2 linked regions of the Homo sapiens genome follow. The protein of the gene in region 1 binds, or shares a complex with, the protein of each later gene. Each region holds a gene or a part of one and is shown on either strand. Other genes may lie near its edges. A codon is read from its position in the direction of its gene.

Region 1 (17,084 bases):
CTCTACTAAAAAAATACAAACAATTAGCCGGGCATGGTGGTGTATGCCTGCAATCCCAGCTACTCGGGAGGCTGAGGTAGGAGAATTGCTTGAACCCGGGAGGCGGAGGTTGCAGTGAGCTGAGATCGCACCACTGCACTCTAGCCTGGGTGACAGAGCAAGACTCTGTCTCAATAAAATTAAAAAAAAAAAAAAGAGGGTTTATAAATATAAACGTTTGTTTTCACATGTAGTTTATTTATTTAAAAAAATAGAGACAGGGGTCTTGCTATGTTGACCAGGCTAGATATGAACTCTTGGGCTCAAGCGATCCTCCTGCCTCAGCCTCCCGAGTAGCTGGGACTACAGGCGCACGCCACTGTGCCCGGCTAGTTTACTTCTTTCAGAACATTTGTTATCAGCAAATTTAAACATTTCAACAAATATTTCAGTTTCCATTTGGAAACAAAATTCTTGTTTGAAAAGCTGACTGGAAACCTGTGAGAATGGGAGTTCCACCCTCCTGTGGGGATGGAGGTTGAAACAGCACCAGAGGCTTCAAGACCAGTCTCCTCTCATTTCGGGGCAGTAAGATACATTTAGCTTACTTAAACAGACTGTGCTGGCAGAGCAAGTCAGTGGCAGAGCTGAAGTTCAGCATTGTCCTGTGGAACTCCTGGATTTTTCTCTTAATTTGCTTCATGGCAGGAGTGTTACATTTAGTCTTGAAGGTCATTTGTTTCAGCATCTTGTCTGTCAGGTAATGTAACCAGAGCACATTACTATAAGGGTGATATTCACCCCAGCGGTTGTTATTCTCCTTCTTCATGAGCCTGTAGATGTCAAACTGGTAGTCACCGTCACCGGTAAACAGGTCCTCATCCATGGAAACGTCACAGAAAACCACAATCCCATCCCGTTCCAAGCGCGACAGGGTGTAGTCAATGATGCTCACTTGCAACCCACAGCTGGGGATAGTGCTGCTCTTCCCATTGAGGGTGTAGTGGAGTTTTTTGAGGCTGGTTTTCTTTAAGAGCACGTTCCCCCAGTGTAAGTCTCGGTGCTCAAAGCGCAGTGATGCCTCTGCCACTGCGAGGGAGGCTGTGAGCTGGTGTAGAATGCTCTTTGCAGTAGCCAAGGAAGACAACTTGGTTCGCATTTGCTCTAAGTCAATCCCTCCAAACTCAAATTCCAGCACAATGAAGAGCTGGTCGTCTTTAAAAAAATCAGGCCGGTCATTTGCAGAGCCTTTGGTTGAATTATAGTGATCCCAGGCTTTGAGGAGCAAGGGAGGGTAAGATCCCTGGACACAGTGCACTGAGTTCAGCCCGATAAAGCCTTCTGTGCGGTTGCACACTTCACCGGATAAGAGGCTCAACTCTTTGGAGATGATGATCTCTGGCAGGATTTCCTCAAAGGTTTTCTGATGGGATCCATTGACTAAATCTGGTCCTTCAATAGCAATGATTTTTATGGCTACGGGTGTGTGATCAGCAATTGTTTGAAACACTTCGCCAAACACCCCTTCCCCAATCTTCTCACAGCGTTGCAGTTTTTCTGTGGGAAGGCAATGGCTAAAGGGGACAGGACCCTTCTGACTGCATTCCCCATAAACCTTTTCAGCATCAGATGCCTTTTTGTTTGAAATACTTAGAGTGTTTAAGGGGCTTAGCAAATACATAGAGGAGGAGTGCCAAGAGGACGGAGCACCACTTGTTCTGTTCATGACAGGCCGGTTTGAACATTCTGATAGGAGGGATCCAGAGAGAGAAGTGGCAGTGGTATAGATGCTGCAGACCTCTGACACATCAGTCACAATTTTCTTCTTGTGGAAACTGAAGGAAGCCCTGGTTTTGGTCCAAAAGCAGACATTCTGTAAAGGAGTCAGGTCCTGGGTGGGGAACGAATCTTTTCCCAGCTTTTGGCCCTTTTTAAAGCGGTGGGAATGGAGGAGAGAGGTTTCCGTTGCCTCCTGATGTTTGCTCTTCCGGCTTGATCTAGTTCTCTCCAGCCTGTCTATTCCCCTTGGCACAATGCGGCCCTTGGGAACACTGGCCTCCTGATGCTCTCTCCGGACGGCCTCTTGAAGCCCTCTCTCTTGACAAGAGTCCTGGCCTGTGGCCCTCCTCTTGCCTGTGCTTGACAGACCTGGACCCTCTGGTCCATTTCCCACCACCAGTTTCCTTTTACAGCAGGACTCTCTCATATTCTTCCCATCTGCCCGAAACTCAGAATCCTCAGGGGTTCCTGAGTTCATAAGGCCAAAGAGAACTGACCTGAGGCTGGCGCGGGTTTGGTGGACCATCCTGGTGTCCTTGGCTCCTCCTGTCGCTTCCTCCTGGGAGCAGGGGAGAGATGCTCGGTCCAGGGAGACTTCTGGGAGGTGGAGGCCGCTCGGGACGGCTGAGGCTGCAACCAGACAGGCGGAGGTGCCGATCGAGATGACACTGTCCCTTGGCGTTGGGGACCCGGGGCAGGGCGAGGCCAGAGAGCTGAACAGGGAGGCACTGATGCCCAGCTCGTCGCCGTCCCTGGGCTGGCCGCACACGCTGAGGTCCGGGCTGAGGCGGCCGGAGTCGCGGCTGGGGAAGGGCGGAAGTCGGAGCGGGCCGCAGGGTGTGCTGCACTTCTGCGGGGGCCGAGCTCGCAGCCCCAGGCGTCTTGGGGTCACGGTTAGGCTTGGGCGAGCTCGCAGCTTCCAGCGCTTTGGGGTCACGGTCAGGCTGGGCCGGTCCTTGGGCACTCGGCCGCCGGGACGCCTCCGCCGCCGCCTCACCGGGCTGCCGGGGAAGTCGGGGTCGTCGGGATCGTCAGGATCGTCGGACTGCGAGGGGTCGCCGATGCTGGCGTCGCTGCTGCCGCTGCTGTTGAAGAAACGCCTCCGGTCCTGCGGCGGGAACCACTGCGCGGCTTCCCGGCCCGGCCGCCGCTGTCTCCTGCCGTCCGCAGCCCCATATGTGCGGAAAAGCCGGCTCCCAGGTCCCGGGAGCGAAGCCGCCATGGCCGGCACCCGCCAAGAGGTTCAAACGCAAACATCGCGAGACTTCCGTGCGACGCGGACGCGCCCGCCTGCCGCGGGGTCCTAGCTCCCGGCCCTGCGCATGCGCACCTCGCCAGGGCCGGGGCCGGGACGGGACGGAAAACTGGCGGCTTGGTTTGTTCAGCGCGTCGCGGTCATGGCTCTCGTTTCAGGCCTCCACGGTGTGCACCTGGAGTCAGGAGCGCGCTTGTGCGTACAGTTCGGTTCAGGTAAGCGCGGCCGTCCCGAGAGGCCAGGGGAGGGCGGAGGGCCTGAAGCGGGTAACGAGAGGCCAGGAGACTGTTTTTCCTGGGTTACCCCTGCCGGCCAGTGCCGGGGGCTGCCAGGCCCTCCCTAGCTTCGTCCCTGGGTCTCAATTGCTCCCGCTGGAGCTTCGCTTGGGCCGAGGTGAGCGCTGAAATTGCTCACACCCTCTATTCTGGGACCTTACGATGCTCTGTGTCCGAAGTGTTAAAAAGATTTCAGACTTTCCGCACGGAAAGGAATTGTGTTCACTAGACCTCGCTTTTCCAGCATGTGGAAGAATGGCATTCAGTGAGCTGTGTCATCGCTTCAGATAAAGAAAATGTCACCGTGGCTGCAGAGATCTCCTGGGATCACTCTGAGGAGGTGTTTGAGACTGAAATGCTCCAGATTTGATTATCCAGTTGCTCACGGGCATCGCCCCTAGAAGAGATAATAGCATCTTTGCATAACATGTCCATGTCCAAAATAGATCTTTTGGTGCAAAAAACCAACCCTCTGTCCCAACCCGTTCCTTAGCTACCCTCAGGAGGGAGATATACTCCAGTTACAGTACAAGGAACTCGAGGGATTACCTGTGACTCCTCTTTCCTACATCCCCACGTCTATTCCAGCAGCAAGCCCTGCCATTTCAGGGCCAAAATATATCCTAAACCCATTCACTTCTCTCCATTTCCACTGCCGTTGTAATTCAAGCTACCCTTTCTTGCCAGGGCTGTTGCAATAACCTTCGGCCTGCCTTTCTTGCCTCTGCTTTTCCCACATTCTTTACAAATAATTCCCACGTAACAGCTATCCGTCTTCTAAGAGCAGACATTAGATTGTGCCATTCCCCTGCTTATTAAAAATAACAAACAAACAAAACTGATGCTTGAGCACACTTAGACTAAAATCCATACTTTTTTCATGGCCAGAGCAAGGCAGTACTTGATCTGGTCTCTGCTTAATTCTTCAACTTCATCTCCTAGTACTCGCCTTTCTCTCCCACTGCCCCTTTTATAATCGGGTTATTCTGTCCTATTCTTCTAGCTCGCCAGTACAGCATTATTCTGGCCACAAGACTTTGTACTTGCTGTTCCTTTGCTTGACACTGCTCTTCCTCTAGGTCCTGACGTAGGTGGTTTCTTCTTAAATTTAGCTCAGGTGTTCTTTTCTTTTTTTTTTTTTTTTTTTTAGATGGAGTCTTGCTCTGTCACCCGGGCTGGAGTGCAGTGGCACGATCTCTACTCACTGCAACCTCCGCCTCCCGGGTTCAAGTGATTCTCCTGCCTCAGCCTCCCGAGTAGCTGGGATTACAGGCGCCGGCGACCACGCCCAGCTAATTTTTGTATTTTTAGTAGAGAGGGGGTTTCACCATGTTGGCCAGGCTGGTCTCGAACTCCTGACCTCAGGTGATCGCCCGCCTCAGCCTCCCAAAGTGCTGGGATTACAGGCGTGAGCCACCGCACCCGACCTAGGTGTTCTTTTCTTTTCTTTTCTTTCTTTCAAGACGGAGTTTCGCTCTTGTTGTGCAATGGCACGATCTCGGCTCACTGCAACCTCCGCCTCCCGGGTTCAAGCGATTCTCCTGCCTCAGCCTCCCAAGTAGCTGGGATTACAGGTATGCGCCACCATACCCGGCTAATTTTGTATTTTTAGTAGAGATGGGGTTTCTCCATGTTGGTGAGGCTGGTCTTGAACTCCTGACCTCAGGTGATCCGCCCTCCTTGGCCTCCCAAAGTGCTGGGATTACAGGCGTGAGCCACCACGCCCGGCTAATTTTGTATTTTTAGTAGAGATGGGGTTTCATCGTGTTGGTCAGGCTGGTCTTGAACTCCTGACCTCAGATGATCTACCCACCTCAGCCTCCCGAAGTGCTGGGATTACAGGCATGAGCCACCACACCCGGCCACACGTGTTATTTTCTTAGAGAGGCCTTCCCTGATCACTTATTCTAAAGTGGGAACTAGTGATCAAGTGATCAAGTTTAATGTTTTACAGTGATCCAGGTGACATTTGTGAGGTCTCAACTGAAGAAGTAGCAATGGGGGTGGAAAAGAAAGGGACAGATACAAGAAATAATTTAAAAAAAAAGAATTGTGAGTGTGGTGGCTCACATCTGTCATCCCAACACTTTGGGAGGCTGAGGCGGGAGGATTGCTTGAGGCCAGGAGTTCAAGATCAGCCTGGGCAGCATAGTGAAACCCCATTTCTTAAAAATAAATAAATACATAAATTAGCCACGCATGGTGGCTCATGCCTGTAGTCCCAGCTACTTGGGAGGCTGAGGCAGGAGTATCGTTTGAGCCCAGGAATTTGAAGCTTCAGTGAGCTATGATTGAGCCACTCCATTCCGGCCCGAGTAACAGAGTGAGACCTTGTCTCAAAAAAAAAAAAAAAAAAAAAAAAAAAAAGGAAAAATCTCTTACGTTAAATAAAATGAATAAGCTGGGTGTGGTGGCTCATGCCTGTAATCTCAGCACTGTGGGAGGCTAAGGTGGGTGGATTGCTTGAGCCCAGGAGTTTGAGACCAGCCTGGGCAACATGGTAAAACCCCATCTCTACAAAAAATACAAAAATTAGCCCAGTGTGGTGGGGTGCACCTGTGGTCTCAGCTACTCAGGAGACTGAGGTGGGAGGATCACTTGAGCCTGGAAGGTTGAGGCTATAGTGACCCATGATCATGCCATTGCACTCCAGCATGGGTGACAGAGCGAGATCCTGTCTCAAAAATAAGTCAGTCAGTCAAGAACTGACTTTGGATGGCACAAGGGAAAAGAAGTTGAAGAAAAGGCCAGGCGCGGCAGCTCACGCCTGTAATCCCAGCACTTTGGGAGGCCGAGGTGGGTAGATCATCTGAGGTCAGGAGTTCGAGACAAGCCTGGCCAACATGGCAAAACCCCATCTCTACTAAAAATACAAAAATTAGCCTGGCATGGTGGCACATGCCCATAATTCCAGCTACTCGGGAGGCTAAGGCAGGAGAATCGCTTGAACCTGACGGGGTGGAGGTTGCAGTGAGCCGAGATCGCACCACTTCACTCCAGCCTGGGCGAAAGAGCGAAACTCCATCTCAAAAAAAAAAAAAAAGGAAGTTGAAGAATAACTGCAGATGTCTTGTTTGGGTAACTTTATGTAGTGTTGTGTACGTTAGGGCCATTAACTAAGCCCAGGAATACCTTTAAAGGGAAAGGTGGTGAAGGCTGTTCAAACACAGTGAGTTCATGTCTAAAATATGTTTTGTTTCCCTCATTCCTTTCCCCATCTTCTAGTTACTAAAAGATGTAACTGAACTGCAGATCCTTGGTGAAATATCTTTCAACAAATCTCTATATGAGGGACTGAATGCAGAGAACCACAGAACTAAGGTAATTCCTGGCTGGCTTCTGAGTAGTGCCCAAGGAAAATTGTGCCTAACCTTTGAGCACCTCCACAGACATTCTGTTGCCCTCTTCCTGTTTTCAGCCTTAACACTTCTGATCTTGGCTCTGCCATCGCTGCCTTTGTGACCTTTGAGTGAGTCAGCTTCTTATGAAATAAGGCAATTAAGAGGCCTAAGCTGAGGAGTTCTGAGTTGAAATAACTAGGCTGGAATCTGCAGTATATACTTTGATTTGAAAATGGATTGATTAAAAAAAAAAATTTCGCAGCTGGGCGCAGGTGGCTCACGCCTGTAATCCTAGCACTTTGGGAGGCCGAGACAGGTGGATCACCTGAGGTCAGAAGTTCAACACAAGCCTGGCCAACATGGAGAAACCCTGTCTACCAAAAATACAAAAATTAGCCGGACATGATGGTGGGTGCCTGTAATCCCACCTACTTGGGAGGCTGAGGCACGAGAATCGCTTGAATCTGGGAGGCAGAGGTTGCAGTGAGCCGAGATCACACCACTCCACTCCAGCCTCAGTGATAGAGTGAGACTCAGTCTCAAAAAATAAATAAATAAATAAAAAATGAATTACCTAAGTGAGAAATTGTTTTTTGTATCCAGTAACTGTCTTAGTGTGCTGTATCAGTGTTTAGTTATAGTATTAAACAGTACTCAGGAATGCATAAATCTTTTATAAGATTTAGACTAGATACTGGAACTCTTGGAATTCTTTTTGCAAAAGTATGACTAGAAGTCAGACTGATGCCTGTGATTTGTGGACTGAATGCTTTGTGTGTTACCCTGTGTTTTCATTCTTGTTGACCCTTGCCTGGACATGGCTTCAGAGGTGATCTATCTGTGAGCTCTGAGCTCTTTAGTTAGGCATGATTCTCTACTAGAGGGAATGTCAGGAGAGTGATGCTGGATTGCTAAATATAAGGTCCTCTGTTTTCCTCCCTGGAGGAGGAGAAAGGAGCAATTCTCTAGACATGCCAATATAACATTTCCTTTTATTTTTAAGTAGTGTATTTCTTTTTCTTTTCTTTTCTTTTTTTTTTTTTTTTTTTTTGAGGAAGAATCTCACTGTGTCGCCCAGGCTGGAGTCCGTTGGTGCCATCTCGGCTCACTGCAACCTCCACCTCCCCAGTTCAAGTGATTCTTCTTCCTCAGCCTCCCGAGTAGCTGGGATTACAGGTGCCCACCACCATGCCTGGCTAATTTATTTATTTTTTTTAAATAGAGACAGGATTTCACCATGTTGGCCAGGCTGGTCTCGAACTTCTGACCTCAGGTGATCTGCCCGCCTTGACCTCCCAAAGTGCTGGGATTACAGGCATGAGCCACCATGTCCGGCTAAGTAGTGTATTTCTAATACAGAAAATAGAGGGAAATGGAAAATACAGAAAACGGAAGAAATAGAAGTGCCCCATTATTGCACTGCCCAGATTTTAACAAATAAAAATAATAGCAAGAAAATCCAAGCCATACAGAGAATGGTACCAAATGAAAAATAATTGTTCCTTCATTTCTCCCTTCCCATGCCCCCAGCAGGGAGGAGTTACTATTAAGTTTCTTATGTGCACATTTTAAATTTGTATGTTTCCCCCTCTTACTTACTGATACTTTTATTTCTATAGCATGGATTCCCCAAAATTCCTTTCTTTAAATCCAATATCCTAAGCAAAGTGTTAAGTAGTTCCTGACAATAAGCCCCTGACTTACAGTGACTCTATGAGTATAAACAAACTGTATCCAAATGCATTTCAGCCACAAGAAAGGGAAAATCCAGCTCATGCAGCATAAGGGCATATGCTGTTTATCCAGTGAGGGAGGCCGGCCTGGGGCGATGGCCTGGCTTCTTTGGTCCTTGTACTCTGCCGTGTGGGGGACGCATTCCTTCATGGCCAGCACAAAGTTGCCACATCTCCAAATGCTGTATTTTCACATGGCAGGATACAAAACAGGAAGCAAGAAGTCAGTAGCAAAAGGATGTTGGATTTTTCTTCATGTGCCTTCCCTTTTCAGGGATGAAACAGTTTCCAAAAGCTCCCAGGAGACATCCTCTTACATCTTATTAGTGAGATCTGAATCTCATGTCAGTCACTGGCAAAGGAGAATAGCTGTGTCATGATCACCTGAGACCAACGATGATTCCTGAATAAAATCCAAAAGGAGAGAGGGGCCCCTGGGCAGGCCAGCATCCGTGTTTGCTGCAAACAGTAGTACCCGGTGCCTTGCTTCTCCCTTAACCTCTACTTGGGCATCTTTGGGGCACTTTTGGGAATCTGTGGGTTTAGAAGAAGATAAAGGGAGGTGGCTTTGAGAAATAGGGACATTTCTTCTACTCACATCTGGCCTGTTTCCCGAGTCACCTTGGGACTTCCTTTCACTTCCCAAACCCAGGGTCTTGAGTCCCCCTCCTTCTCCTGTAGAATATTCCAGCCCTCTTTCTGTTCTTCCTCCCTCTTTGTTGCTATGGTACCTCCCTATTCTCAAAGCCTAGGACTTCACTCCTATTTAGTTCAGCTACCTATGAGCTAAATAGGACTGGAAGGTCAACTTTAGGTCAACCAGCATTTATAACTTAATTGGAAGAGGCCTTAAAGGTAAGTTTGTCCAGCCCTTCACCCCGTACAGAAACCTCTCCAAAGCACCCCTGACCTTGGTGCTTAAACATACACGTGAAGGGTTGCTCTGGGCAGGCAGAGAAGTCTTGTTGGCTCTCTGGCCCCACCTAAGTCCTGGGAACTTCCTCTGGCCACAACTTGGAAGGGCCATACCTGGGTCTCAGGAAGGACATCTCCTGAACTTTCTAGCTGAGCCCTGCCAGAAGAGAGATTAGACTCCCGAAATTGGGAGAGCCTTTGGAAAACAAAACCTGCGGATGACTTCTAATAGCTGAGCTCTGCAAGTAGTACACATGGATATAATTTGCATTTATTATGTCCCTTAGGTAATACACACTTTTTAGTCTGGTGAGGGGAAGACCAGTACTTTTGTCATATTTTATGTGGGGAAAGTGTATTACCAAAGCCTTTAGGGATCTGTGCAAGATCAAAAAGAGCCGTCAGAACGGAGTTGGAAAGGACTTGGAGATCATTTAAAGGAAGTCATCATTTTAAAGAGCATAGGCACGGGGCTCAGGGACATAGAGCAGTGTAGCGGCGTGACAGCCTCACAGTCCTGTGTTGAGACCGGATTCCGTGGGACCCTCTTTCAAGCTGTCAGAGCATCTTTAACAGAAGGTCATAATCTCCTGACAGACCTAGCCCTTCTAGATAAGGGGCCAGAATAGTTTCTTACGAAGTATTTGGGTGATTGGATAGTTTTAGATGATCTAAAATGCTGCATCAGGGAATATCTAGCTTTTTGCTTTACTGTCATCAGCTTTGATCAATACACGGGTTGTTGCCAAGTCCTCGTATTTTGCTCCTTAAAATAACATGTAGGATTTTTTCCTTGTTTGCTTCACCTGATTTATTGGGCGATCTCTTTGTCTTGTCTAGATCACTGTCGTCTTCCTGAAAGATGAGAAGTACCATTCTTTGCCTATCATCATTAAAGGCAGCGTTGGTGGACTTCTGGTGTTGATCGTGATTCTGGTCATCCTGTTCAAGGTCAGTTCTACTCATGGCATCACAGTGAGGGAAGACTGGGCTCTAGTTTTGGGCACAGAACTCCTTAGGACAGCCAACCTCTGACTTAGAGCAGCTGCCCTGGCCTCGTGGCCACTTTTTTCTCCTCCTTCAACTGCACACCCCCATTTAGACAAATGAGTAAAACAGTATCTGTCTGAAAAGAGAAAACTCTGAGTTATAAAGAGTGATTTTATATATATTTCTTTGGTACCTCCCTATTCTCAAGGCCCAGAACTTAATACTGTTATGTTCGGTTACCTGTGAGTTCAATAGGGCCTGGAAGGTCAACCCTAGGCCAGCATTTATAACTTACTTGGAAGAGGCCTTAACGGTAAGGCCTTAAAACAGATGTGACTGTTGTTCCCCTGTTGAAATCTTTTCCTTGCCTTCCCCTGTCTTAATGTGCAAACTCTTCTACTGCTATTTAAGATCCTCTCCTCTCTGTCCGCTACCCGTCTCTGCCCTTAAGTGTTGCTTTTTTTTCTTTTTTTTTTTTGAGACGGAGTTCCGCTCTTTCGCCCAGGCTTGAGTGCGGTGGTGCGATCTCGGCTCACTGCAACCTTCCCTTCCCCCCACCCTGACCCCGGGTTCAAGAGATTCTCCTGCCTCAGCCTCCTGAGTAGCTGGGATTACAGGAATGTGCCACCATGCCTGGCTAATTGTTTTGTATTTTTAGTAGAGACGGGGTTTCACCATATTGGCCAGGCTGGTCTCAAACTCCTGACCTTGTGATCCTCCCGCCTCGGCCTCCCAAAGTTCTGGGATTACAGTCATGAACCACCACTCCCAGCCTCTTTTTTAAAAATAAACACCAGGGTCTTTGTCCCCCAAGCTGGAGCTCAGTGGCACAGTTAAGGGCTCACTGCAGCCTCGTACTCCTAGGCTCAGGTGATCCTCCCATCTTAGTCTCCTGAGTAACTGGGACTGTTACTCAGGTGCATGCCACCACACCCAGCTAATTTTTTAATTTTAATTTTGTGGAGATGAGGTCTCCCTATATTGCCCAGGCTGGTCTCAAACTCCGGGGCTCGAGCCATCTTCTCATCTTGGCCTCCCGAAGTGGTGGGGTTACAGGCATAAGCACCTGACCTTGCTTTTTTCTCCCAACAAGTCAAACTATTCCCTAAATAGGTTCGTGCCTCTGCGTACGCGTAGGCTGCTTTTCTTGTCAGGAATGCCCTCCATGACTGCTCACTTCACTCACTGTCTTCCCTGAAAGCGGTCTAGAGACTCCTGAGTCCTCTGTGCTGGCTTCTGTGTGTTTGCTGTGAGCTCCCTTCTAGAAACCCTTCCAAATGGCAGTCATCACACTGTGTTGTAATTATCTCTTTTTCCTACTAGATGATGAGCTTGATGTAGGAAGCTGTACTTGATCTCCTTCTGTCTTCAGCATCATAGGCTATACTGAGTATTTTTGCATAAATAAGATTAGATCCAGTACAGCCGAAATTATCATGCTTTGCAAAATAAGTTAAAAAGGTTCAGCTGCTCGGGAGAGCAGGGTTCAGAGGAAGGTGGAGTCAGTTCTGATTGAGGGATGAGCACCAGAGGTCTTGAAGGATTGGACTCTCCAGGAGAGATTCAGAGTAAGTTAGGAGAAGGGAGTAGTAAGTATGAGAAGCAGAGGAATATAGGGGCTATTTAGGCAACAGCCAGAATGCCGGTTTTCTGAAACAGATGGCTATCTTTGGCCTGTAACTGGACTTTTCCTTCCTTTGTTTCAGTGTGGCTTTTTTAAAAGAAAATATCAACAACTGAACTTGGAGAGCATCAGGAAGGCCCAGCTGAAATCAGAGAATCTGCTCGAAGAAGAGAATTAGGACCTGCTATCCACTGGGAGAGGCTATCAGCCAGTCCTGGGACTTGGAGACCCAGCATCCTTTGCATTACTTTTTCCTTCAGGATGATCTAGAGCAGCATGGAGCTGTTGGTAGAATATTAGTTTTTAACCATACATTGTCCCAAAAGTGTCTGTGCATTGTGCAAAAAGTAAACTTAGGAAACATTTGGTATTAAATAAATTTACACTTTTCTTTGCAGTAGTGCCTTTAATCTGGAAATACAGTATTACTTAGGATTTGCAGTACATTTTGCCTGATAGGGCAAGTTTTCATTCTTATTTTTAAAAAATGATAGATTGTGGCCGGGCATGATGGCTCACGCCTGTAATCCCAGCACTTTGGGAGGCTGAGGCAGGCAGATCACGAGGTCAAGAGATCGAGACTATCCTAGCCAACATGGTGAAACCCCATCTCTACTAAAAATACAAAAATTAGCTGGGCATGGTGGCGGGTGCCTGTAGTCCCAGCTACTCAGGAGGCTGAGGCAGGAGAATCATTTGAACCTGGGAGGCGGAGGTTGCAGTGAGCCGAGATCGTGCCACTGCACTCCAGCCTAGCAACAGAGTGAGACTCCATCTCAAAAAGAAAAAAACAAAATAGGCGGGGTGCGGTGGCTCACGCCTGTAATCCCAGCACTCTGAGAGGCTGAGGCAGGTGGATCACGAGGTCAGGAGATGGAGACCATCCTGGCTAACACGGTGAAACCCCGTCTCTACTAAAAATAAAAAAAATTAGCCGGGTGCGGTGGCAGGTGCCTGTAGTCCCAGCTACTCGGGAGGCTGAGGCAGGAGAATGGCGTGAACCTGGGAGGCAGAGCTTGCAGTGAGCCAAGATCACGCCATTGCACTCCAGCCTGGGCAAAAGAGCAAGACTGTCTCAAAAAAAAATTATCGATTGTATCCTTTCAGATAATTCTTAAGTATCAATTTTTCAGATTTCCAGAAGAAACTCTTTGGGGTTTTAATTTAAACATACAGGTTAAGTTTGGGAGCATTGATATCTTTATAGATTTCCTTTCTACTCCGCTTGCTGCGATTTATTTTTTAATTTTTATTTTACTTTATTTTTTTTTTTTGAGACAGAGTTTTGCTCTTACTGCCCAGACTGGTGTGCAATGGTGTGATCTTGGCTCACCGCAACCTCCGCCTCCCGGGTTCAAGCGATTCTCCTGCCTCAGCCTCCTGAGTAACTGGGATTACAGGCATGCGCCACCACGCCCAGCTAATTTTGTATTTTTAGTAGAGATGGGGTTTCTCCATGTTGGTCAGGCTGGTCTCAAACTCCTGACTTCAGGTGATCCACCTGCCTCAGCCTCCCAAAGTGCTGGGATTACAGGCATGAGCCACCGCGCCTGGCAATGCTGAGATTTTTAAAAACACTCTGCAGCAAGGTTTTATAATTTTCTTCAAAGGGGTCTTAATTTATAAAGACTTACTTCCAGCTGCATTTTTATTTGTTTATTTATTTTGGGGGGGTCTCACTGTGTTGCCCAGGCTGGAGGGCAGTGATGCAGTCATAGGTTGCTGCAGCCTTGAACTTTTGGGTTCAAGCCGTCCTCTGCCTCAGCCTCCTGCGTAGCTGGGACTACAGGTGCAAGCCACTATGCCCGGCTCATTTTTTAATTTTTCTTTTGTAGAGATGGGATCTAGCTATGTTGACCAAGCTGATTTCAAACTCCTGGCTTCAAGTGATCCTCCTGCCTTAGCCTCTGAAAGTGTTGGGGCGTGAGCCACTGCGCCTGACCTGTTATTATGCTTTTGTTGCTACTGTGTGAAAATACCGTTTTTTCCCCCGACTGTTTAGAGTTTGCACTTAGAACAGTTGGTGGTTTTGAATGTTTATCTTATCTGGCCATTTTACTGAACTGTGGTTTTGTTTTTTTGGAGACGGAGTCTCACTCTGTCGCCCACGCTGGAGTGCAGTGGTGTGATCTCTGCTCACTGCAACCTCCGCCTCCCGGGTTCCAGCAATTCTCCTGCCTCACCCTCCCGAGTAGCTGGGACTACAGGGACCCACCACCATGCCCAGCTAATTTTTGCACTTTTAGTAGAGATGGGGTTTCACCATGTTAGGCTGGTCTCGAACTCCTGACCTCAGGTGATCCACCCGCCTCAGGCTCACAAAGTGCTGGGATTACAGGCATGAGCCAAATCCGGGCCCGGCCAAACTGTTTTTAAATCACTCTTTAGTTGATTCTTTGGGATTTTTCTAAGGAGACAATTTTATTTGCAAATAATGGCAATTTGGAGTCTTTCTGATATTTCTACTTTTGGCTACCCTTACTTCTTTGACTAGGACGTGGAGAGCTCTGAGAAGTAAACCGTGTACCTGGTTGTAATGGGAGGGCTTTTCTGGCCCTCCTCTGCCTGCCTCACACCTGCCTGTTATCCCAGCCCCGGCTGCTCTGCCTTTGGGTAGTTTCTAGGGCTTGGTTGGAGCAGCCCATTCACCTCTCATGGAGCCCCGTACCTTGCCAGTGTTACATCACTAGGCTGTTGGGCACCATCTGCTTCCCTGTTGATCTGATTCCATCATCTTCATTTCGTTCAGAAATCCGTCTGTGCTATCGGTCACTTGATGATATTGTTCTCTGTTTTCCAATGCTGCCACAGGCTTTTCCCCTTCCTTGTAACTCTTGGGTTGTTTCAGTGGAATTTGCCTTTGAGGGAAAACACACAGGTAAGTTTGCTTACTTATTTTCCTGTTGTGCTCAGGAGTTGTGTCCAAGTTTTCATATTATATAAAAGCCCCTGCTTTTTATACTTTTTAAAATTGCAAATAAGACCCCACTTCCATCGTCACTGGGAAGCCTGTTTGTTATTGACTTACTGAGTCGTGCTGATCCAATTGGCGTTAGAGCAAGGCAGCTGTAATCGGGGGAACTACATCAGGAACTACTTAATGAGGAGGAAGACACTTTTAAGTGCGACATGGTTAGATTTTACAAATTCATATGCTATGGCTTGGGCCAAGGTCTGTGGCATACACCTGTAGTCCCAGCTACTCAGGAGGCTGAGGCATGAGAATCGCTTGAACCCAGAAGGCAGAGTTTGCAGTGAGACGAGATCGTGCCACTGCACTCCAGCCTGGGCAACAGAGCGAGACCCTGTCTCAAAAAAATAAATAAATAAATAAATAATGAGGCCGGGCGCAGTGGCTCACGCCTGTAATCCCAGCACTTCGGGAGGCGCCGACGTGGGCAGATCACCTGAGGTCGGGAGCTTGAGAGCAGCCTGACCAACATGGAGAAACCCCATCTTCATTAAAAATACAAAATTAGCTGGGCGTGGTGGTGGGTGCCTGTAATCCCAGCTACTCTGGAGGCTGAGGCAGGAGAATCGCTTGAACCCGGGAGGCAGAGCTTGCAGTGAGCCAAGATCGCGCCACTGCACTCCAGCCTGGGTGACAGAGCGAGACTCCGTCTCAAAAAAAAAAAAAAAAAAAAAAAAAAAAAAGAATGAGTGCTGGGCTCAGCCCTGTGGAGTAACCTTTTCTCGTAATTGAATGAGGTCTAAATAACGTGGCCAATTTAGGTTTTCACACCTGCTTGGTTTCATTGGTTTCATCCCTCCAAAGTTCAGATGGTATCATGAGAGAAACAGGTTATTCGAATCTGCACTCACTATCCTGTACCAGGGCAAAGGAGAACAGAAAGCACATGGGGTACTTTCCCAGCCGGTCTTTCTTCTACAAGCTGCCTTTTAGGTGCTAGGCCTTTCTCATTTCCTTTTCACCCTCTGCCTGGGACAGGAAATGGTAGAGCTTGCATAGATCCAAGAACAGTGAGTCATGCCATAGGGCCACTCTGCTACCCAGAAAAGGACTGAGCTGGGACCCGCTGAACTTTGGATGCAGTTATTGGAGGGAACAGCAGTTTTTTTTGTTTTGTTTTGTTTTTTTGAGACAGGGTCTCGCTCTCGTTCATGCTGGAGTGCAGTGGTGCGATCTCGGCTCATTGCAACCTCCGCCTTCTGGGTTCAATCGATTCTCATGCCTCAGCTTCCTAATTAGCTGGGACTGCAGGTGCATGCCGCCACGCCCAACTAACTTTTGTATTTTTAGTAGAGATGGGGTTTCACCATGTCGGCCAGGCTGGTCTTGAACTCCCGACTTCAAGTGATCCGCTCACCTCGGCTTCCCAAAGTGCTGGGATTCCAGGCGTGAGTTGCCACGCCCGGCCTCCTGCTGTCTTAAATAATCTGCACTACTGCATTATTCTGTGCACATCTCTAATACATTTACAAGGAGGGGTTTTTGGTTAAGATTTTCTGGGTCTTCTAGTCATAATTATATTATAATGGCACCAGAATTTTACCATTACTTGAACTAGGAACAGATTCAGTATATGGAATCAAGGGAAACTTTCATTTTATTAATTTATTTATTTATTTATTTATTTGAGATAGAGTCTTGCTCTTTCTCCCAGGCTGGAGTGCAGTAGCATGATCTCGGCTCACTGCAACCTCCGCCTCCCAGGTTCAATCGATTCTCATGCCTCAGCTTCCTGAGTAGCTGGGACTGCAGGTGCATGCCACCACACCAAACTAATTTTTGTATTTTTAGTAGAGACTGGGTTTCACCATGTTGACCAGGCTGGTCTTGAACTCCCGACTTCAAGTGATCCGCTCACCTCGGCTTCCCAAAGTGCTGGGATTCCAGGCGTGAGCCGCCACGCCCGGCCTCCTGCAGTCTTAAATAATCTGCACTACTGCATTATTCTGTGCACATCTCTAATACATTTACAAGGAGGGGTATTTGGTTAAGATTTTCTGGGTCTTCTAGTCATAATTATATTATAATGGCACCAGAATTTTACCATTACTTGAACTAGGAACAGATTCAGTATATGGAATCAAGGGAAACTTTCATTTTATTAATTTTTGTTTGTTTTGTTTTGTTTTTCTTTGTTTGTTTTTTGAGACAGAGTCTCGCTCTTTCGCCCAGGCTGGGGTGCAGTAGCATGATCTCGGCTTACTGCAAACTCCGCCTCCTGG
Region 2 (12,667 bases), on another chromosome or scaffold:
CAGCTTTTCTTTTTTTCTTTTCTTCTTTCTTTCCCTCCCTCCCTCCCTCCCTCCCTCCCTCCCTTCCTTCCTTCCTTTCTTCCTTCCCTTCCTTCCCTTCCTTCCTCTTTCTTTTTTTGAGATGGAGTCTCGATCTGTCACACAGGCTGGAATGCAGTGGCACGATCTTGGCTCACCGCAATCCCCGCCTCCCGGGTTCAAGTGATTCTCCTGCCTCAGCCTCCCAGGTAGCTGGGACTACAGGTGCCCACCACCATGCCGGGCTAATTTTTGTATTTTTAGTAGAGATGGAGGTTTTGCCATGTTGGCCAGGCTGATCTCGAACTCCTGGCTTTAGGTGATCCACCCTCCTCGGCCTCCCAAAATGCTGGGATTACAGGCGTGAGCCACCGCGCCTGGCCTCTTTTTCTTTGGCATGAGCCACGGTGCCCGGCCAATTACTGAGAATTCCTGCCTTTTTCACAGGATTATTTTAAGGATCAAATGAAAAGTTCTGTGTGAAAGAAGAATGAGGCCATGAAGTGATACAGAAACCAAAGGTGATATATTTATTGCCTTTCCCACTCAATGTAGTTCGTTTTTTGTTTTGTTTTGTTTTGTTTTTTTGAGAGATGGTTTCACTCGACTTACTGTGACCAGGCGTTGCTTGGGTACTGCTGCTACTATGGAAATAAACAAAGACAAATCCTTACCCTGAGAAATGTTGCCAGCCTAATGCTGAGGTTAAGGAAGGGAAGGGGTATTAAGATAGGAGAGGGCAGAGGCAAGGAGGAGGGCCCAAAGAGATGAGGGCAAAGAAGAGCAAGGGAGCCGGGCACTGTGGTTCATGCCTATAATCCCAGCACTTTCGGAGGCCAAAGCAGACAGATCATGAGGTCAAGAGATCGAGACCATCCTGGCCAACATGGTGAAACCCCGTCTCTACTAAAAATATAAAACTTAGCTGGGCGTGGTGACACACACCTGTAGTCCCAGCTACTCCGGAGGCTGAGGCAGGAGAATCGCATGAACCCGGGAGACGGTGGTTGGAGTGAGCCGAGATCGCGCCACTGCACTCCAGCCTGGGTGACAGAGCAAGACTCCATCTCAAAAAAAAAAAAAAAAAGAAAAAAGAAAAGAAAAAAAAGAAAGAAAAAGAAAAAACAAAAAACCAGAAGAGCAAGGGAAGGCTCACAGGGCTGAATCTTGAAGAATGGGGGTTCTCAGGGTTACAGAGAAGGGGAGGACATTCTGGACAGAAATGGAATGTGTGAAGATATTGTGTACTTGGAGATTGCAGATGTCGTGTGGGGCTAAACATTCTTGTTCAGCTGCAAGAACATCTGAAACCTGGGAAGGCTGTGGGAAACATAAAGAACTAGATGTATAATATTTTCAGTTTTTTTTTAAATTAGTAACTATTAATAGAGTAGCACAAATTAATTGGGTGCTTGTTCTGGACCAGATACTGTGCTACTACTGTGCTAGGTCCTTTGTTTTTTTAGACATGGGGTCTCACTGCTGTTGCCGAGGCTGAAGTGCAGTGGCACAGTCACAGCTCACCACAGCCTCGAACTTCTGGCCTCAAGCAATCCTCTTGCCTCAGCCTCCTGAGTCGCTGGGATTACAGGCATGAGCACCGCAATTTACAGAAATTGTCACTTTCATGATTTCCAACAAAACAACGAGCAAGTTACTCGTTGTTTTACAAATGGGAAAAGTTAAACCTGTTGAGATTTGCTTCCTGAAGTCATGCACCTGTTTACATGGACAAGGCTAGGAATCAAACTTGGGTTTGTCTAACTCCAGAGTCCTTCCTAGTAATTAACCTCCGGTGCTCTGAACTGCCATGCAAAAGAATGTGAACTTCATTCTGAAGGGAATGGGAAGGTCGTGGAAAATTTTTAAGCATGAAAGTGACAGGCTCAAAACAGCAACACCAACCAACCAACCAACCAACAAAAAACCCTCAGTTTTTAAAAGATAGCTCTTGGCCGGGCGCGGTGGCTCACGCCTGTAATCCCAACGCTTTGGGAGGCCGAGGCGGGCGGATCACAAAATACAAAAAATACAAAACTACAAAAAATTAGCCGGACGTGGTGGTGGGCGCCTATAGTCCCAGCTATTCCGGAGGCTGAGGCAGGAGAATCGCATGGACCCGGTAGGCCAAGGTTGCAGTGAGCCGAGCTCGTGCCACTGCACTCCAGCCTGGGCGACAGAGCGAGACTCCGTCTCATAAAAAAAAAAAAAAAAAAAAAGATAGCTGTCATACGGAGTGGAAGCTCAATGGCAGGGCAGAAAGACCAGCCTGACTATGTAATCTACTAGACCAGAGCTGGCGAGGACTTCAGTTAAGGCATGGTCATGGGTGGACGGAGAAAAGGTGATACAATTGAAAGTCAGAAGACAGATTTAGTAATATTTGGAACTCATGAGATTTGGACAGAGGACAAGAGGAAGGGACACCCAACCAGAACAGATGGGGCTAATGAAGGTGTCTTCCAGGAAGATGGGGAATGTGGAAAGAAACAAATGGGCTTGGAAAGCAAGATGAGGCATGTGGTTTTGGAAATAAGCTGGGTTTGAAGTGCCTAGTATCCATCCAGAAGGACCTGTCTACCAGGCAGTTAGAAACATTGGTGTAGCCAGGCACAGTGGCTCACGTCTATAATCCCAGCACTTTGGGAGGCCAAGGTGGGAGGAGGGCTTGAGCCCAGGACTTCAAGACCAGCCTGGGCGATGAAGTGAGACCCTGACTCTACAAAAAATAAAAAAAATTAGCTGGGCCTGGTGGTGTGTGCCCGTAGTCCCAGCTACTCAGATGGCTGAGGTGGGAGGACCCCTGAACCCAGGAGTCCAAGGTTGCAGTGAGCTTTGATTGTGCTACTGCACTCCAGCCTGGACGAGTGAGACCCTGTTTCTCTTTCTCTCTCTATCTCCCTCTCTCTCTCTCTCTCTCTCTCTCTCACACACACACACACACACACACACACACACACAAAATGTGTAGAGCTCAGGATAGGGTCTCAGCAGAAGATAGCAATTTGGGAGCGCTTAGCTAAGGGACAGAAATAGTGAAAGCAGGCAATCAATCTCACTTGAGTTGCAGGGAGAAAAGAAGATGGCCAAGGCCAGCATGGGGGAAACCAGGAATATTGATGGGGAAGAGAAAGACATGAGAAGACTGAGATGGGGACCTAGAGAAGGATAAGGGTGACCAGGAGAGTGGACCCAGGGGACAAGTCCTCTTCTAAGGAAGAAAAATCAGTGTAAACGTGGCCATGTCTCTTACCACGTAGTTTCCCTCTAAACACACACACACACACACACACACACACACACACACACACCTGTCCCCCACTAGCCTAAGGCAGAATTAAATGTGAACAAAGCACGTTTTTCACTTCATAAAAGCCACAGATTCAGAGTGGACTTACTGGCAACCAAGGTAGCCACGTAGAAGCTGGTTATTAGAGGAAGAGGTGGGTTTTCTTCGAGACAGGGTCTCACTCCCTGTCACCCACACTGGAGTGCAGTGGCACAATCTCAGCTCACAGCAGCCTCCGCCTCCCGGACTTAAGCGATTCTCCCACCTCAGCCTCCCGAGTAGCTGGGACCACAGGCAAATGGCACCACCCCCGGCTAATTTTTTCATTTTTCTTTCTGTCTTTTTTTTTTTTTTTGGTAGAGACACAGGGTCTCGCTATGTTTCCCAAGCTGGTCTGGAACTTTGACTTCAAGCAATCCGCCCGACTTGGCCTCCCAAAGTGCTGGGATTAACAGCTGTGAGCCACAATGCCTAGTCAGAGGAAGAGTATTTCTTTACCCTATCCTTAATTATCCTTTAACTCTCACCTGAGGGTAGACAATGATTTAAGTACAGGGAATGATTAAATGTTAAAACTTAACATTTTAGAATGTTATCTTGTATTGATGAATTCAGCTTATGCTGGTCTCGCAAACAAATACGAAGACTGACAGATTCCTGTGAGTGCAGGCCTTCACAGTGCCAGGACCACAAGATGTAATGAATTCTATTCCTGACTGGATATAAAAAATGCCACGAAATTTTCCTTTTGAGATTCAGCCAGGGAGACCTCCTGGAGTTTAGAGGTACCCAGACTGGTGAGTAAAAGGAGTGTGACCTTGTGGGGGCAGTCAGAGGACCTAGATGTCTGACACCAACATCCCCAGGTTCCAGTCTCTGCTCAGTTACTACTGGGCCTGAGAAGCTGGGTGCAGAGATAGTGACCCACCCACCTCTGAAAGTCACTACTTTTTGAAGTCAGAATACCGCCCATACATTGTGGGCCTAAGCAGGTTACGAGGGTCTCGGCAGAGACCCAGAGGCATGCTCTAGAAATTGCTGTGACCCTGGAGCAGAAACATGTGGCAGTCCCCAGCAGAGCTCACCTACGCTGCTCTCCTCGCTTAACACGCCTCAGGAAAGGCAAAATGGCAGCTTTACAAAACGAAGTTTTATTCCATTTCCCCTTCTCCCCTCTTAATTCTCATAGATCGCTGCAGTGAATGCTTTTAACCTGTCAACTGTGATGAAACAAACAGAAAACCGAAGCCCTGGCTTCTTCTGAGGTGCAAATAAATGACCGAGAAGGTGTTATCTAAGACCTCTACAGCCATTTGTATCTGGCCGTGTGTAGAGTGGGCTCTGCAAGACCCTGCCTCACTTTCCCACTAAGAGGCCTTGGACTTCCCAGCTCCCAGAGACTGTAGAGATCACCTCTGTGGCCTCCTGTCACGATTTCCTAAGGCGAAGAGCTTCATTTGCCCAACGGAGGCCCACGTTCTTCCTGTCTGATCTACTGTCTTCCCAAGGATCTGAACTCGGGCACCAGCGTCTGCCCACATGTCCGACGAAAACAACGTAAAGGAACTACTGAGTCTGGACAGAAAATCCAGACATACCATGCAGCTTCTAAGAGGACCGAGTGCCTTCACTGGAATAGTGAATCTCCTTCTGTGGACATGGACAGGGAACGGCTCGATAAAGCCCAGATTCACAAAATTCCGCCCACACCCCGTGCCCCCGGGAATTTTGGCTTAGGGGCAGGATATGGGGGTTACCACTGTGCTAGTGGAGGTGGCGCGGGGACTGAACGGCAGCCCCAGCGCAGTTCTCCCCACGTTTGTCCGCAGAACCCCGGCGAGGCCGAGGTGGTCATTTCCCTCCCTAGCCGGATGGCCGCGCCGGGTGAGGCCGGTTTGGGCGCGAAGCACGGGCGTGTGGCGCTCCACTTCCGCAAAGGCCAGCCGCGCTCAGGACCGCGAGCCCTGAGCGTCCCCCTAGTGACCCCTGGCCTCGTGCCCGACGCCCCGTCTCTCCTGCCCCGGCCCCCCCGCCACGCAGGGCCCCGGTCACGCGCGGGGGGAGCCGGACCGCCAAAGCCCGCGAGCCGGCGCCCAGGAAAGCGTCCGCAGCCCGGCCAGTGCGGATAGGCCAATTGGCCGAAGTCGGCAAAGCTCAAGACGGCACCGCAGCAGGGGGACCCGACCCCGTTTTGTTGGGAGCCTAAGCGGAAGTGCCTTCCCCGCTCTAATGCCGGAGGAGCACGGAGGGCAAGCGGTACAGCTTCTTCCAAGTGCTGATGTGGGTGGCTCTGAAAAGAGCCTTTTGGATACGATGGAACCTCCGGCCGAACCGCCACTTCTTAAGCCCGCTCTCCACGGATGCGGCGGGCCAGCTGGATGTCCTTGGGCATAATGGTCACGCGCTTGGCGTGGATGGCGCACAGGTTCGTGTCTTCGAACAGCCCCACCAGGTAGGCCTCGCTGGCCTCCTGCAGCGCCATCACGGCCGAGCTCTGGAAGCGCAGGTCCGTCTTAAAGTCCTGCGCGATCTCGCGTACCAGCCGCTGGAAGGGCAGCTTGCGGATCAGCAGCTCCGTGGACTTCTGGTAGCGCCGGATCTCCCGCAGGGCTACGGTGCCGGGCCGGTAGCGGTGCGGCTTCTTCACCCCGCCCGTGGCCGGCGCGCTCTTGCGGGCCGCCTTGGTGGCCAGCTGCTTCCTCGGGGCCTTGCCGCCGGTCGACTTGCGAGCAGTCTGCTTAGTACGGGCCATAGCGAACCAAAACACAGGCTTACCAGCGCAGCGGCGGGGAGAAAAACGAGCTCCTAGCCCCGCCGCAGCCGTCTTTATAAGCACAGTCTTTTCCCGATTGGGCGGAACAATAATTGAAAATCCCGCGCTGGCTGTCCATTGGCTGTGACGTCACCCGTCCTAAAGTCACCGGTTGGCTTGGGCAGATTCCTCCCTAATCCCGCCCACCCCGCCTCACTTTCTACTTACCAGTTGGCGAAGTTTCGCAAGCTTGTTTTTCCCCTTTCCTTCAGGGTGAAAGTCATTTTCCATTGCAGCTTTGTCAGATTGTTCCCTTTCCGCCCTTCGCTTCCTTAGAACACACTGCCCGCAATACCCCCCCTTTCTTGCTGCGCCCTACAGCTCCCGCGTGGAACCTCATTCTTCCATTTGCCCCCCGCCCCCAGTTGCTACTTGGCGGATCGTTTTTCGCCTGTCGGGTGCCTTTTGGGTGGGAGAGGTGCCCGCCCCCAGGACGCAAGATTCCGCCTCCGAGGCCCTTACTCTCCGCCGCCAGGGCGCTTTGGAAAACAAAACAGAAACTAAGACTTAAGTCAGCTCAGTGAAGCCAAGACCCAGCTCCGCCACACTAGCGAGCACTACCCGCTCAGGGCCCTCCCCATCGGGGGTGGGGACGAGGAGCACGTCCCGCTGGTGCCAGACTAGGTCTAAGTGTCCGGCCATAGCCTGCGGAAACCACTAGGGAAGCGCGCGCTCCGCGCGCAACACTTCAGCGCGTTGGGTACTGCCCGCGGCGCTGGTGTTTGTGACTGTGTGGAGCGGACCGTGGCGGCGCCCAGGACGTTTGGTGCCTGCACCTGCCCTGGGAAGTCCTAGGACTGGGGACCCACTCATCGAAGAGCCAAGGCAGTTACGTGCTCCAGATGGAAGACGGCGCGCACACACACACACCCCGCCCCGCCCCGCCCCGTCCCGTCCCGTCCCGTCCCGTCCCGTCCCGTCAGCTCCAGGTTCGCTATTCACTACTGAGGAACGCTGGACTGAGAGTGGCCAGCATTAACAACTCTTTTATTTGAAAACGTGGGTGGCTCTGAAAAGAGCCTTTTGAGTTCACAGGTGCCCCTTCGAGACGCGGGCCGGGCTGGGCCCACTTGGGCCGGACGTCAGCCTCACTTGCCCTTTGCCTTGTGGTGACTCTCCGTCTTCTTAGGGAGCAGTACGGCCTGGATGTTAGGCAAGACGCCGCCCTGGGCGATGGTGACTTTGCCCAGCAGCTTGTTCAGTTCCTCGTCGTTGCGGATGGCCAGCTGGAGGTGACGAGGGATGATGCGCGTCTTCTTGTTGTCCCGAGCCGCGTTGCCCGCCAGCTCCAGGATCTCGGCGGTCAGATACTCGAGGACCGCAGCCATGTAGACGGGCGCGCCGGCCCCCACTCGCTCCGCGTAGTTGCCTTTGCGCAGCAAGCGATGCACTCGCCCTACCGGGAACTGAAGGCCAGCGCGGGACGAGCGCGACTTGGCCTTGGCGCGGGCCTTGCCTCCTTGCTTGCCACGACCAGACATGACAGCGATAGTAGTCACCGAGAGAAACTCCTGCCTGGCGATCGGGAAAGTCGCCGAAAACGCCGCTGCTTCACCTTTTTATAGACAGAACGGCGATTGTCCACGGAGCACTTTGATTGGCTCAAGCAAATTTTGTCCCGATAGCCAATAGGATAGCTCAGCCAGAATCCACTCATTTACATAATCTCGTCTCCCTCGCATTGCGCGCCGCGGAAAACTCGCGAACCATAACGCAGCGTCATGCGCACAGCCTCTGTAAGTACACAGTCGTTTCCGGTAGACCCCGAGCCTACCGCTCTGCTTGCGTTCTCGGGGGTCGGTGTCGGTCTTGGGTCTGGCCATGCCTGAGCCTGCAAAGTTCGCGCCGGCTCCCAAGAAGGGCTCCAAGAAAGCCGTCACCAAAGCCCAGAAGAAAGACGGCAAGAAGCGCAAGCGCAGCCGCAAGGAGAGCTACTCCATCTACGTGTACAAGGTGCTGAAGCGGGTCCACCCCGACACCGGCATCTGGTGCAAGGCCATGGGCATCATGAACTCCTTCCTCAACGACATCTTCGAGCGCATCGCGGGAGAGGCGTCCCGCCTGGCGCACTACAACAAGCGCTCCACCATCACGTCCCGGAGATCCAGACGGCCGTGCGCCTGCTGCTGCCCGGCGAGCTGGCCAAGCACGCCGTGTCCGAGGGCACCAAGGCGGTCACCAAGTACGCCAGCTCCAAGTGAGTCCCTGCCGGGACCTGGCGCTCGCTCGCTCCCTCCCTCCCTCCCTCCGCGGGTCGCCGGCTGCTTTGTCTCCAAAGGCTCTTTTCAGGGCCATTTAACCACCTCAGTTAAAGAATCTTTCTTGTGTTGTCAGTCCCAGTTGATGTTTTTGGCTTCACGTCTGGTTAACTTTAGGAGAGCACACAACACCAAGCACAGATAACTATTTTCTTTTCACATAGGCATTGCTATAAGTAAGCTTACATAGATTGATAGTGGTATCTTACTATGGCATAGATAGGTTGGGGCTTGCCTTAGAGGGCTGCTCTTGAACTGTCTTTGGCCTGGTTACGTACCCGTGAATATGTGCCCAGGAGATTGTTTCCTGTTGAGAAACGCAGTGTTAATTTTGATAAGTTTATGTAAGATCAAATTGTGTATATGAACAAAGGTTGGGTCCGCTCTTCAGTGGTAAAATGAAGGTAGAGATTAAATGCATTGTATGCTCTCAGATGTGTACTTAAAAGGGAATAGCTCAACTTTTATATATGGTATCGAGAAACCTGAGGTTTTTATATCATTGGTTCACAAACACGTGCCTACACCACCACTCATGTGAAAATTCCTTAAGGAGGTAGATGGAAGTTCGATTTTGATAACCAGGAGTTAACACCGATAACCTTCTGCGCTTTCTAGTTGAGATACCCTAAAATCTACCCAATACCATTAAATGGTTTTTTTCCCCAAGAGTTATCACTCGGAAAAGCTTGTCCAGTTTAAGGGTTTGTTCCATACAATAGCAACAAAATATACGATTTCTGAAGCCAGAGTTTGGGATCCCTGAAGAGGAGAAGGACCACCAATTTGCAAGGGAGGTTGATTAGGTTTGTTTTCTGCTTTGGGAACACTGGACTTGGAATCACACAGCCTCATTAACCTCAAAATATTATACTGATTGCTCTGGGGATCGTAAATCCTAGGCTGGCCACAATAGAAGCGAGGAAAGCAATTAGGAGGCTGTTGCAGTGTTGTGGGCTGGAACAGTGATTAAGACTTAAAGTCTCTCCAGACCAGCAGCATCAGCATTACTTGAAGTTACTAAAAATGAAAATTCCCAGGTTCCATTATTTGTGTTAAGCTTTCTGGGTGATGGTGATATATGCTAAAGTGTGAAAAACAACGGATAAATGACATGCTGGAGTGCAATGGTGGTAATGGAAACAAATGTTGGATTTTATCTTTGAGGTAGAATTAATAGGTGTGGCTGAGGAACAGGATTTAGCTAACAGTGAAACCCCTAGATTTTTGGCTTGAGCAACTGTGTAGATAGTGGTACTATTAGGATAGAACACTGAGAGAAGATATTCGTTGGGACACTGAAGGGAGATCCAGAGTTCCGACTGAAATTTGAGAAGCTCTTTGCTATTCAAGTGGATATGTGCAGTTGACAGTTTGAGAGATGCATCTAGGGTTCAGTAAAGACAACACAAGCCTGTCTTTAGGGTCTACCTGTGAACTGTGAACACAGCAATGAGAATGATGGACATCACCTTTAAGTATTTTTCTAGACTTTATTACTCATGTGTTTGTCATGAGGTGTAACTTAGTAGTTCATAGTCCTATAATGTATGTTATTGACTAGGTAGCATTTATTTTTCTAATTGTTTCTGTTATAGTGCTGCCACATGTGTTTCCCAGAAACGCATTTTACCCACAGTTCTTAGGGTTGGCCTGATTAGTTTAATTGCTGTCTGAACCTGCTTCTTACTGTGATTAGTTCAGGAATCTAGATCAAACTCATTGGCATTTAACATTTCAGGAAGTGAACTGAGTAACAACTAACTCAGCAGGGGAGTGTAGTATGCTATTATCTTTTGGGAAAGCAGCTTATTTGCTTTCAAGAGGCAGCAGGAGGATGGACTGTCTTTAGGTATGAAGGCAAGAATGATTATAGACAATATGCAGAGGAGGACACAGTGTGGGAGAATCAGGGAACTGAGCCACTCATGGAGTTCAGCCAACCTTGGATCCCTGCTGCACCTTTGGACTTCCAGTTAAGCCAATTTGTCTGACATATTTACTTATACCAGTTTGAATCTTGAAATATTTCAGGAATAATAATTTCCTAGATAAAAGGAAAGACCTTTCATGAAAGGTCTCAAGTCAAATAGGGTCAATTAGGACAGAGTTGCTCCAATTACATATTTGGAACAGATGTCCAAATGTTAATACTTGACTAAGGCTAAAGACTAATATTACCATCACAGGAAAAATGTCCAGGGTTTTTTTTCAGATGTGAAATTTTATTTAAAAATTTTAAATAAACTAAATCAAAAAATTTTAGTAGTTGTACTAATTTCCTGGGGCTGTCAAAGTACCACAAACTGTATGGCGTAAAACAACACAAAGTTATTCTTTCATGGTTTTAGAGGCTAGAAGTTTGAAATCAACGTGTTGGTAGGGCCATGCTCTCTCCAAACCCACTAGGGGAAGACTCCTGTCTTTCAGTGTCTGGTAGCCCCACTTGTTCTTTGGTTTCTGGCAGCATAACTGTAATCTCTACCTCAGTTTTTTCATGTATGTCTCCATGTTTTTTTACTTTCTTTCTTGAGATGGAGTTTCACTCTTGTTGCCCAGGCTGGAGTGCAGTGGCATGATCTTGGCTTACTGCAACCTCTGTGCCCCGGGTTCAAGCAATTTTCCTGCCTCAGCCTCCCGAGTAGCTGGGATTACAGGCATGCGTCAGCACGCCCGGCTGATTTTGTATTTTTGGTAGAGATGGAGTTTCATCATGTTAGTCAGGCTGGCCTCGAACTGACCTCAGGTGATCCACCTGCCTTGGCCTCCCAAAGTGCTGGGATTACAGATGTGAGCCACTGCACCCGGCTGTCTCCATGTCTTCTTATAAGGGTATCAGTCATACTGGATTAGGGCCCACCCTAAAGACCTCATTTTAACTTGATTACCTCTGTAAAGACCCTGTTTCCAAAGAAGGCAAAATTCTAAGCAACTAGGGGTTAGACTTCAACATATCTTTCGGGGGGACACAACTCAACCCATAACAGTAGTCAATGGCTGTGGCAGGCTAAATGTGGCTCCCAAATATGTCCATATCCTAATCCCTACAGCCTGTGAATATTACCTTATATAGCCAAGAGGATTTTGCAGATGTGATTCTGAGATTGAGAGATTATGCCAGATTATCCAGGTAGGCCCCAAATGTAATCACCACAGTCCTTATAGGAGAGGCAAGAAAGTCAAGTGTAGAAGGAGGCGATAGAAGGAGAGAGGGATTTGAAGATTAATAGGCTGCTTGCTTTGAAGACAGAGGGAAGGGACCATAAACCAGAAATAAACCTCTAGAAGCTGGAAAAGGCATGGAAATAGACCCTCCCTTAAGGTCTCTGGAGGGAGTGCAGCCTTGATTTCTACCGAGTAAAATTGATTTTGTACTTCAGACCTCCAAAACTGTAAGAGAATGACTGTTGTTTTAAAACCATTGAGTTTGTAGTAATTTGTTGCAGCAGCCACAAGAAACTAATACAACATCTATATAGAATTTTTTCAATAATTGGAGAAATTTGAATATGGATTGCATATTAATATTACTGAATCAGCATTAAATTTGTTAGGTGTAATAATGTGATTGTAGCTATTTAGGAGAATATCCTATTTTTAAGAGACATGCCACCATATTTAGGGAGAAGTGCCAACATATTTGCAGTTTATTTTCAAATGGTTCAGAGGCTGTCTGTGTACATGAGAAGACAAAGATAAGGCAAATGCAGCAAAATTGTAATAATTGGTGAATCCAGGTGAAGGGACTATGGCTGGTCTTTGTACTTTTTTTTCCAACTTTTCTGTAGGTTTAAAATTTTCAAAATAAAAAAATGGGAAATACTTTAAAAATTGTAATCAAAGACATTAGTACAGAAACTTTCATAATGTATTTTATTTTTACAGTAAAATTAATTTATGTAAATTGATAGAATTTTACTAATTTCACTCCCAAGTTACATTAAAAGGCTTACATATGTTTGATAATAGCATATGTAAACTAGAACTCTGAATGATATCCATTGGTCATAATACGTACTATGTAGCGGTAATGGTGACTTTTGTGATTGCACAAGTCTAGAGATGCCCCAAATGACATTGACTTAGACATCTGGTTATTCTAAGGCTGAAACTGAAGTTGAATAGAAGGTTTTAGTCAAATACTGAGATGAAAACTGAGGCAGTCCTGGCGGGGGGGAGTGAGTGTGTGTGTATATATACACACATAGACATCATGCTTCTAAACATTTACAGAAAGAAAGGGTAGATTATCTACAAAAAAATAAGAATCAGACTGATATGAGATCTTAC

What was found.
Region 2: the proteins of HASPIN (region 1) and H3C15 are in contact, whole or in part, in a crystal structure (PDB 4OUC), measured with the Homo sapiens proteins. Residues at the interface, in NP_114171.2 of Homo sapiens: Glu492 (codon at 1,507), Gly493 (codon at 1,504), Val494 (codon at 1,501), Asn522 (codon at 1,417), Ser586 (codon at 1,225), Ala587 (codon at 1,222), Asn588 (codon at 1,219), Glu613 (codon at 1,144), Asp649 (codon at 1,036), His651 (codon at 1,030), Trp652 (codon at 1,027), Gly653 (codon at 1,024), Leu690 (codon at 913), Asp707 (codon at 862), Asp709 (codon at 856), Leu710 (codon at 853), Thr712 (codon at 847), Gly713 (codon at 844), Asp714 (codon at 841), Gln718 (codon at 829), Phe719 (codon at 826), Tyr722 (codon at 817); in NP_001005464.1 of Homo sapiens: Ala2 (codon at 6,056), Arg3 (codon at 6,053), Thr4 (codon at 6,050), Lys5 (codon at 6,047), Gln6 (codon at 6,044), Thr7 (codon at 6,041), Ala8 (codon at 6,038).

What each region holds. Positions count from the first base shown.
Region 1 is NC_000017.11:3,709,832-3,726,915, reverse strand, and holds HASPIN (serine/threonine-protein kinase haspin), read right to left. Parts: upstream 3,014-17,084; 5' UTR 2,981-3,013; coding exon 584-2,980; 3' UTR 217-583; downstream 1-216. Other genes in the region: ITGAE (integrin alpha-E isoform 1 precursor), read left to right, coding at 3,172-3,228, 3,533-3,628, 6,514-6,609, 10,118-10,228, 11,974-12,069. UniProt on the Homo sapiens protein: Serine/threonine-protein kinase that phosphorylates histone H3 at 'Thr-3' (H3T3ph) during mitosis.
Region 2 is NC_000001.11:149,846,047-149,858,713, reverse strand, and holds H3C15 (histone H3.2), read right to left. Parts: upstream 6,107-12,667; 5' UTR 6,060-6,106; coding exon 5,649-6,059; 3' UTR 5,589-5,648; downstream 1-5,588. Other genes in the region: H2AC19 (histone H2A type 2-A), read right to left, coding at 7,208-7,600. UniProt on the Homo sapiens protein: Core component of nucleosome. Nucleosomes wrap and compact DNA into chromatin, limiting DNA accessibility to the cellular machineries which require DNA as a template.